Regions from separate parts of the Homo sapiens genome. Here region 2 is linked to region 1. The links come from fine-mapping of genetic effects on gene expression. A gene starts in region 1. The other region holds a variant in brackets. All regions are shown on one strand. Distances are from middle to middle.

Region 1 (4,384 bases):
TAAAACCCATACAGGAAAAGAATTGCACAGTGTTGTGTGGTAGAAAAAAAAACCCACAAAGTTAAAAGACAGGTTGGGAAAAATATGTATGTAACACATTTGATATCCATTGGTTATTGCTGATGGTGGGAAACTGCAAACATTTTCCGTAAAGAGCCAGAGAGTAAATATTTGAGGCTTAAGGGTGTGAACCCCAAAAGAGGTTCATGATGGATCCGGAGTGGCTAACTAGGCCTAAATTCAAAATACAGCCAAGCAGCCATTGGCTGACTAGAGGTCACACATACTTCGGTTTTTGTTTGCTTTTTTTTTTTTTTAGGCGGAGTCTCGCTCTGTTGCCCAGACTGTAGTGCAGTGGCACAATCTCGACTTACTGCAAGCTCCGCCTCCCGGGTTCACGCCGTTCTCCTGCCTCAGCCTCCCAAGTAGCTGGGACTACAGGTGCTCGCCACCACGCTAGGCTTTCTTTTTTTTTTCTTTTTTTTTTTTTTAGTAGAGACGGGGTTTCACCGTGTTAGCCAGGATGGTCTCGATCTCCTGACCTCGTGATCCTCCCGCCTCGACCTCCCAAAGTGCTGGGATTACAGGCGTGAGCCACCGCACCCGGCCTTTGTTTGCTTTTTGAGACACGATCTTGCTCTGTCGCCCAGGCTGGAGTGCAGTGAGGCGATCATGACTCACTTCAGCCTCGACCTCCCGAACTCAAGCGCTCCTCCAGCCTCAGCCCCCAGAGTGGCTGAGATCACAAGAACCCGCCACCACCGCCCGCTAATTTTTTGTAGAGAAGGGGTTTCGCCACGTTGCCCAGGCCGATCTTGAACTCCTGGGCTCAAGTTAAGGGAGGAGACCACCCCTCATATTGTCTTACGCCCAATTTCTGCCTCCAAAGAAAGAAAAAGTAAAACTAAAAGGCAGAAATGAAATCCACAAGCAGACAGCCCGGCCTCACACCCTAGGCTTGGTAAAGATGGACCCCTGACCTAATCAGTTATGTTATCTATAGATTACAGACACTGTATAGAAAAGCACTGTGAAAATCCCTATCCTGTTTTGTTCTGATCTAATTACTGGTGCATGCAGCCCCCAGTCACGTACCCCCTGCTTGTTCAATTGATCACGACCCTCTCAGGCGCACCCCCTTAGAGTTGTGAGCCCTTAAAAGGGACAGGAATTGCTCATTCGGGGAGCTCGGCTGGTGAGACAGGAGTCTTGCCGATGACCCCAGCCGAATAAACCCCTTCCTTCTTTAACTCGGGTGTCTGAGGAGTTTTGTCTGTGGCTCGTCCTGCTACAAAGTGATCCGCCTGCCTCGGCCTCCCAAATGCTGGGATTACAGGCGTGAGTGACCGCACCTGGCCTGGGATGGACATTTTAAAGGTTCCTGATACATATTGCTAAATTGTTTTCTCGAAACGCTCTATACCATCCCACCAGCATTGTATGACGCCTACGGTTGAGATTTTTGGCTCAAAGAATTACGGTGTATTTCAAGGGGAGAACCCTCTTCTCATCTTACCCCTAAACTCTATCCTTGAGTGACCTACCTTCACTCCCAAGCCTCCAGTCACCCACTGGGAATCTCTACCTGGAAATCCCAGAGGCACTCAAACTTAACGTGTCCAAAACTAAATTATCCGTCACCTTCCCACCTCATATCCCCCCAAATGCCCCAGATTCAGAAAACATACCCATCACTGTGGCTGGCACCACGGTGATAAGCACGATAATAACCATGGCAACCAGATTCCCTACTGAAGCCATTCTTTTAGGATGAACCAAGGGCACAACAGGCAGAGATGACAAGGGGAATGGAGAAGGGGGTACAGTAAGTTTTAGATAGTCGAAGGCACGCGCACGACAACGCCTGCGCACCACGGAACAGGGCAAAAGGGTGACAAACATGCGCCACTGAGTTTTATCGAGCAGCCGATGCCCAGAAAACAGGCATCCGCACACAGACTCAGTTTCCTTGTAGGCAACTCCCGGGCGTTGCGAGTCACAACCGGCATTCTCGCGCCGTGAGAGAGAACTGCGCAGCTGCTGACTGGCGGGCCGCCAGGCGCGTGCGTAGAGACGCCCACACGCCCGCTGATGCGCACGCGCCCTGGGCCGCGCGTGCGCGCGTGGGGTTCCGGAATGAGCCGGGGAAAGCAAGGGGAAGGTTTGGGGTTGGCTCCCGGTTTCGCGCATGCGTGCACTGCACAAACCATTTGGCGGGTTTTTCCGGCCACTCAGTTCTGCCACCGTCACTGAGAAGCTCAGCGGTAGCTTTTGGGAAGCAGGACGTTCTCACCAGGAGAGCGTCCTCTCGAGATTTCTGCTCCCTCCATTCAGGGCGTTTGGGAGCCACCCCTTCATTTTTTAAAAAAAGTATTTCTCTGTGACCGACGGCCGGGGCCTTCTGACGGTCTGAGGTCTTGCTTGGGCCAGTCACCTCCTGTCACGGTCCGCGGAGGGGGGAAGGATAAGAGGGCGAGGAGCTCATCGCTCGCCACCCCCGTGGGCTTCTTGGGCGCAGGTCGGAGCTGGGTGGGCCGGCTCCCCGGCCCCTGGCTTGGGCGACCATGTCCGCATCCGCCCAGCAGCTGGCGGAGGAGCTGCAGATCTTCGGCCTAGACTGCGAGGAGGCTCTAATTGAGAAATGTGAGTCCCGCACCCCTCCCGCCCTGCAGCCGTGCTCCACGCTCTCGCCCGAGTTCCTCGGCGCCTAGAACCGAAAGTGGAGCGCTTCCAATTTCCACTTCCCCTGGAGCAGAGTTCTCGGTGGCTGTGAGATGAAGAATCAAACTTGAGTTTTGAGATTTAGGATGTGGGGACTTTGAAATGCCCACCGGGTACCGCTTGGATGCCAAATCAAAAATAGGAATATGCAGCACGATTTTAAACCAACTCGAAGTTCCCGAAAGGCGGAATTGGGATGTGCTAGATAGAGACTAGGCACTGGTGGCACCTGAGTTTGGAAATTGTTGAAGCCCCGGTAACAAAGCAACAGATGTGGGGGTTTTGAAATGTAGCTTTTTATTCTTGGCTCCTCCCTTTCCAGCCTACACCTTAAACCTCTGCTGATCCATCAGTTATTTTATCATAGCTGTTGGTGGTCTGTGCAAATATGAATCCCTTGAGGTAGGTTCCTAAAATTGAATTTGAGCTGTGGAAGGAGCTTTAGGGAGCTTTACAGATGGAGAAACAGACAAGGAAAGCTAATTGCCTGAGCTGTCTGTGAAGCCAGGTGTCCTGCCTTGGAGTCCCGTGCTGCATCATACGGGTCCATCGTGTTGGTCAAGCTGTAGAGCAGTGTAAGGAGTCATTTGAAGCAAAGCCTGGGAGATGTGGAAGTTCTAGAATCGGTATGAATGTGCACCTGCCTTAACCACTCAACACTTTGAACTTCTTATATACAAAAAGATAACGAAACGTTAATTTATGGTGAGAAATTCCTTTCAGAAACCAGAATACTTCAAGTCTTCATGCCCAGTGCCTTCTCTCTCTCTCTTTTTTTTTTTTTTTTTTTTTGACAGTCTTGTTTTATCACCCAGGCTGGAGTGCAGTGGTGCAATCTCGGCTCACTTCAGCCTCCGCCTCCCAGGTTCAAGCGATTCTCCTGCCTCAGCCTCCCAAGTAGCTGGGATTACAGGCGCCCGCCACCAGGCCCGACTAATTTTTTTTTGTACTTTTAGTAGAGAAGGGGTTTCACCATGTAGGCCAGACTGCTCTCGAACTCCTGACCTCAAGTGATCCACCCACCTTGGCCTTCCAAAGTGCTGGGATTACAGGCATAAGCCAGCAGGCTCGGTCCTTCTCTTTTTAAAAGAAGACTAGCCAGGTGTGGTGGCTCACGCCTGTAATCCCAGCATTTTGGGAGGCCAAGGCAGGTGGATAATCTGAAGTCGAGAATTTGAGACCAGCCTGACCAACATGGAGAAACCCTGTCTCTACTAAAAATACAAAATTAGTCGGGCGTGGTGGCGCATGCCTGTAATCCCAGCTACTCAGGAGGCTGAGGCGGAAGAATCGCTTGAACATGAGAGGCAGAGGTTGTGGTGAGCCGAGATCACACCATTGCACTCTAGCCTGGGCAACAGGAGCGAGACTCTGTCTCAAAAAAAAAAAAAAGACTTAAGTGGAAAACCTGATCATAGTCAGAAATGTATGTGGTAAGCATGAAATCAGCATGAGAGAAATTAGTTATGTGAACCAGATTTGTAAAGGCTTCAGGCCAAGATGCCAGTTGCTTTCATCTCATGGCAATGGCTTTGGAATTGTGGACTTTGGATCATCAGTAACTTCAGTGGCACCTTAATGTTTCCTGACAGTCAACCGTATTTCCCTGTTTTTTTTGTTGTTGTTTGTTTTGTTTTTTGAGATGGAGTTTCTCATTGCCCAG
Region 2 (4,384 bases), 61 kb after region 1:
AGTTCCTACCTTTCTGGCTTCAATTCTTCAGAAGAGTTTGCCGTCCTTTGGGGAGAACGTGATTTTTGTTATCTCAGCCCACTGACTTCATTGATCTCTAATCTTTTTTAATTCCTTGGGCCAACTTTGTTCGTGCCCCCACACTGTAGCCAGAAGCCCGTTGGCGAGCTCTGGCACCTGCAAACCACCCCGTGGAACGAGTGTTTCCTCTGGCTGAGGGTTGGAGAGGAGGTGTGGTCTCAGCAGGCGGCCCGTAGCCTCACAGCCAGGCCTGGTGGTGAGGTCACCATGTCCACCAAGGTGCCCATCTATCTGAAGCGTGGCAGTCGCAAGGGCAAGAAGGAGAAGCTTCGGGACCTGCTGTCCTCGGACATGATCAGCCCACCGCTGGGGGACTTCCGCCACACCATTCATATTGGCAGTGGCGGCGGCAGTGACATGTTTGGCGACATCTCCTTCCTGCAGGGCAAGTTCCACCTCCTGCCGGGGACCATGGTGGAGGGGCCTGAAGAAGATGGCACCTTCGACCTCCCCTTCCAGTTCACCCGCACCGCCACCGTGTGTGGGCGGGAGCTCCCGGACGGCCCATCCCCTCTGCTCAAGAACGCCATCTCCCTCCCGGTTATCGGTGGACCCCAGGCTCTCACCCTGCCCACAGCCCAGGCTCCACCCAAGCCCCCTCGCCTGCACCTGGAGACCCCTCAGCCTTCCCCACAGGAGGGAGGGAGTGTGGACATCTGGAGGATTCCAGAGACTGGCTCCCCCAACAGTGGACTGACCCCGGAGTCAGGGGCCGAGGAGCCCTTCCTGTCCAATGCCAGCTCCCTGCTGTCCCTGCACGTGGACCTGGGGCCTTCCATCCTGGATGATGTCCTGCAGATCATGGATCAGGACCTGGACAGCATGCAGATCCCCACATAGGACACGAGGCTGCCTAGGCTGGGGTCCCAGGTGGGGCCCAGCCAGGAGGTGGGGTGTGGACCCGGCCCTGGCGGCGGAGTCAGGGTCCCAAGATCCCACCTGTATGGTCGCTGGCCAGTGATTCTCCTTCTGAGCCGTGTTTCCCCTCTCCCTCCCTCTCCACGTGGGCAGGGCAGGCCCCATCGCTTTCCTCTGATAACCACATGGACACATCCTGAAGTCAGCCCAGGCGCCCTGAGCATCTTGGGGCACCTGGACCCCATCACAATACTCCTTCTTCCTTCAGGTCCCTGGGTGAAGGCTTTGCTGAAACCGACCCCCCTTTTCACGTCCCTTCTGCCTCTGCCCCGTTGGATGCCCTGACTGGGGGCAGGGGAAGAGACAGGGCACAGCTGGCCACAGGGCTCAGCCACTGAGCAGGCTGTTCCGGGCCTTTGGCTTTGCATCCTGGACGGGGAGTGTCCTGTCAGGGACCAGATGTGTCCTGCCTCATCCCTAGCTCCAATCCCTTCCCCACGTGACCGGGGATTCTGGTTGCAATAAAACATGCTGCTGCTGGTGGCGGAGCTCCCTGTCCCTTTGCCCCAGGTTTCCTCCCGGAGGCAGACAGTCTCCCAGAGCTGAGGGCTTGCCTCTGGAGACCCCAGCCCCAGAGGGCTTTGTGGAGGACAGGCCTTGCCCTCAAGAACGTCGTACCTGACGCTGAGCCTGTCATGAGAATGCAACAGGAGCAAACCAAGTGTTGCTGTGACATTGATTCAGATGTTTGGCAAGAGGTGGCTGAGCACT[G/C]GGGTGGGCTTGGCACTGTGCCAAGCCTGGGGCCAATCCCTGCCCAGTCAGCTGGGGTCTGGTGGGGGACACCCAAGAATAAAAGAATAACCACAAAGTGTGCAAGGGACCAACAGCTTCTCCAGCTTAAGAGCACCGAGGGAGCATGCAGGAGGGATGCTTGGAGCTGGGAGGGTCTAACAGTGCTGCTTCAAGATTCATTCCATCCACGGCTGTTTACTGAGCATCTCCAGTATACAAGGCACGGCTCCGGGTGCTGGGGATACAAGGCAGACGCCATCCCTGCTCTCTAAGAGTTTAAATTCTAGTTGGAAGGGGGATATTAAATTGGTAAACAAATAAGAGATGATTTCCAGCAGTGGTAAAGGCTACGAAGAAAACAACGTGATCAGGAATGCCTAGCAGGGAGGTCAGGGAGTGTCAGGGCTCATTAATGTGATCAGATGTGATTCTGAGCCAAATCGGAGCTACCAGCCAGATAACTCATATGTAAGCACAGGCACTGAGGAACCAGAGTGAAGACAGAGCAGACACCACACAGCAAAAGAGCGTGGACCTCCGAGTTGCACCTGGCCTGAGACTCAGTTTCCCCATCTCTAAAATGGAGCAGGCCAGGCATGGTGGCTCACACCTGTAACCCCAGCACTTTGGGAGGCCAAGGTGGGTGGATCATGAGGTCAGGAGATCGAGACCATCCTGGCCAACATGGTGAAACCCCGTCTCTACTAAAAATACAAAAATTAGCTGGGCATGGTGGCACGTGCCTGTAATCCTAGCTACTAGGGAGGCTGAGGCAGGAGAATCACTTGAACCCGGAAGCTGGAGGTTGCGGTGAGCCGAGATTGCGCTACTCCACTCCAGCCTTGGTGACAGAGTGAGACTCTATCTCAAAAAAAAAAAAAAAAAAAAAAGAGCCACTGATAGCTACCTCACAGGGTTATTGAGAAAACTAGGGATAACATTTATACTAGCCACAGGGAAGGGTTTTTTGTTGTTGTTGTTGTTGTTTTGTTTTGTTTTGTTTTTTTCTGTTGAGACGGAGTCTCACTCTGTTGCTCAGGCCGGAGTGCAATGGCACAGTCTCAGCTAACTAAACTCTGCCTCCCGGGTTCAAGCTACTCTCCTGCCTCAGCCTTCCAGGTAGCTTGGATTACAGGTGCACGCCACCATGCCTGGCTAATTTTTTGTTTTGTTGTCTATTTGTTTGTTTTTTTGTGTGTGACAGAGTCTCACTCTGTCACCTGGGCTAGAGTGCAGTGGCACAATCTCGGCTCACTGCAACCTCCGCTTCCCAGATTCAAGCAATTCTTCTGCCTCAGCCTCTCGAGTAGCTGGGATTGCAGATGCCTGCCACTGCTCCCAGCTAATTTTGTGTATTTTTAGTAGAGACGGGGTTTCACCATGTTGGCCAGGCTGGTCTCGAACTTCTGACCCCAGTTGATCCGCCCGCCTCAGCCTCCCAAAGTGCTGGTATTACAGGCATGAGCCACCATGCCCGTCCAGGAAAGGTGTTACAAATGGTTGCAGTGTGTGATGAAGGAAAGAACTGGGGCTCGGGAAGGGCGGGACTGTGAAGCTGGAACACAGGCTGGCGGCAGCAGGGAAGAGTTTCGCTGGCCAGGCTGACGCTGAGGCGATGGGGTGCTGCTGAAGGACGTGAAAGCAGAAGAGATAGGTGGTCAGATCTAGACCTGAGGAACGACATCACCCACGCCAGGTCGGGGATGGAGGTAGCCATGGCAGGCATGAGCAGGAGGACTGGACCCAGGTGAGGATGGTGGAGACAGAGAGGAGGGGAGTGGCCTAAGGTGGGGCCCGGTGGCCCCTTCTTCCACCCTCAGCCAGTTCTTTTCTACCTGTGTGACCTTGGAATCCCAGACACCCACCACTCCCCCAGCCTTTCACAAACATTACACAGTGTGTGTGTGTGTGTGTGTGTGTGTGTGTGTGTGTGTGTGTGTGTGAGAATGCATTTTTTTATTATTTCTGGACATTTTATTTATTTATTTATTTATTTCGAGACGGAGTCTTGCTCTGTCGCCCAGGCTAGAGTGCAGTGGCACGATCTCAGCTCACTACAACCTCCGCCTCCCAGGTTCAAGCGATTCTCCTGCCTCAGCCTCCCGAGTAGCTGGGATTACAGGTGCCTGCCACCATGCCCGGCTAATTATTTTTGTTTTTGTTTTGAGATGGAGTCTTGCTCTGGTGCCAGGCTGGAGTGCAGTGGCACGATCTGAGCTCACTGCAATCTCCGCCTCCCGGGTTCAAGCGATTCCCCTGCCTCAGCCTCCCGAGTAGTTGAGACTACAGGCATGCACCACCACGCCCAGTTAATTTTTTGTATTTTAGTAGAGACGGGGTTTCACCATCTTGGCCATGTTGTGATCCTCCTGCCTTGGCCTCCCAAAGTGCTGGGATTACAGGTGTGAGCCACCGCACCCGGTGCCCAGCTAATTTTTGTAGGCCAATTTTTGTATTTTTAGTAGAGACAGGATTTTGTCTTGTTGGTCTCGAACTCCTCACCTCAGGTGATCTGCCCACCTTGGCCTCCCAAAGTGCTGGGATTATGGACGTGAGCCACTGTGCCCGGCCTTATTTTATTATTATTTTTTTTTTGATACTGAGTCTGGCTCTGTCGCCCAGGGTGGAGTACAGTGGCACGCTCACTGCAACC

Alleles and levels. Alleles are on the strand shown, and positions count from the first base shown. SD is a standard deviation of normalised expression in the study named.
In carriers of allele C in region 2, the expression in spinal cord of the gene that starts at base 2,234 in region 1 tends to be lower than with G alone (moderate effect, 0.42 SD a copy in GTEx).

The links. PIP is the estimated chance that this variant, and not a neighbour inherited with it, causes the effect.
Region 2: its variant is the best candidate, but not a certain one, in a credible set for the expression of POLA2 in spinal cord (GTEx, PIP 0.67).

The regions. Positions count from the first base shown.
Region 1 is chr11:65,259,729-65,264,112 of GRCh38, forward strand. POLA2 (DNA polymerase alpha 2, accessory subunit) reads left to right here and starts at 2,234. Exons shown (of 18, transcript NM_002689.4): 1 at 2,234-2,643. The coding sequence starts at 2,565. RefSeq lists enhancers at 1,372-2,259, 2,254-2,503, 2,260-3,145.
Region 2 is chr11:65,320,611-65,324,994 of GRCh38, forward strand. CDC42EP2 (CDC42 effector protein 2) reads left to right here. Exons shown (of 2, transcript NM_006779.4): 2 at 1-1,807. The coding sequence starts at 289. The coding sequence ends at 921. It overlaps LOC124902691 (a long non-coding RNA gene), which reads left to right and starts at 3,135. Exons shown (of 2, transcript XR_007062728.1): 1 at 3,135-3,478. The variant G/C (reference allele first, on the strand shown) is at 1,711.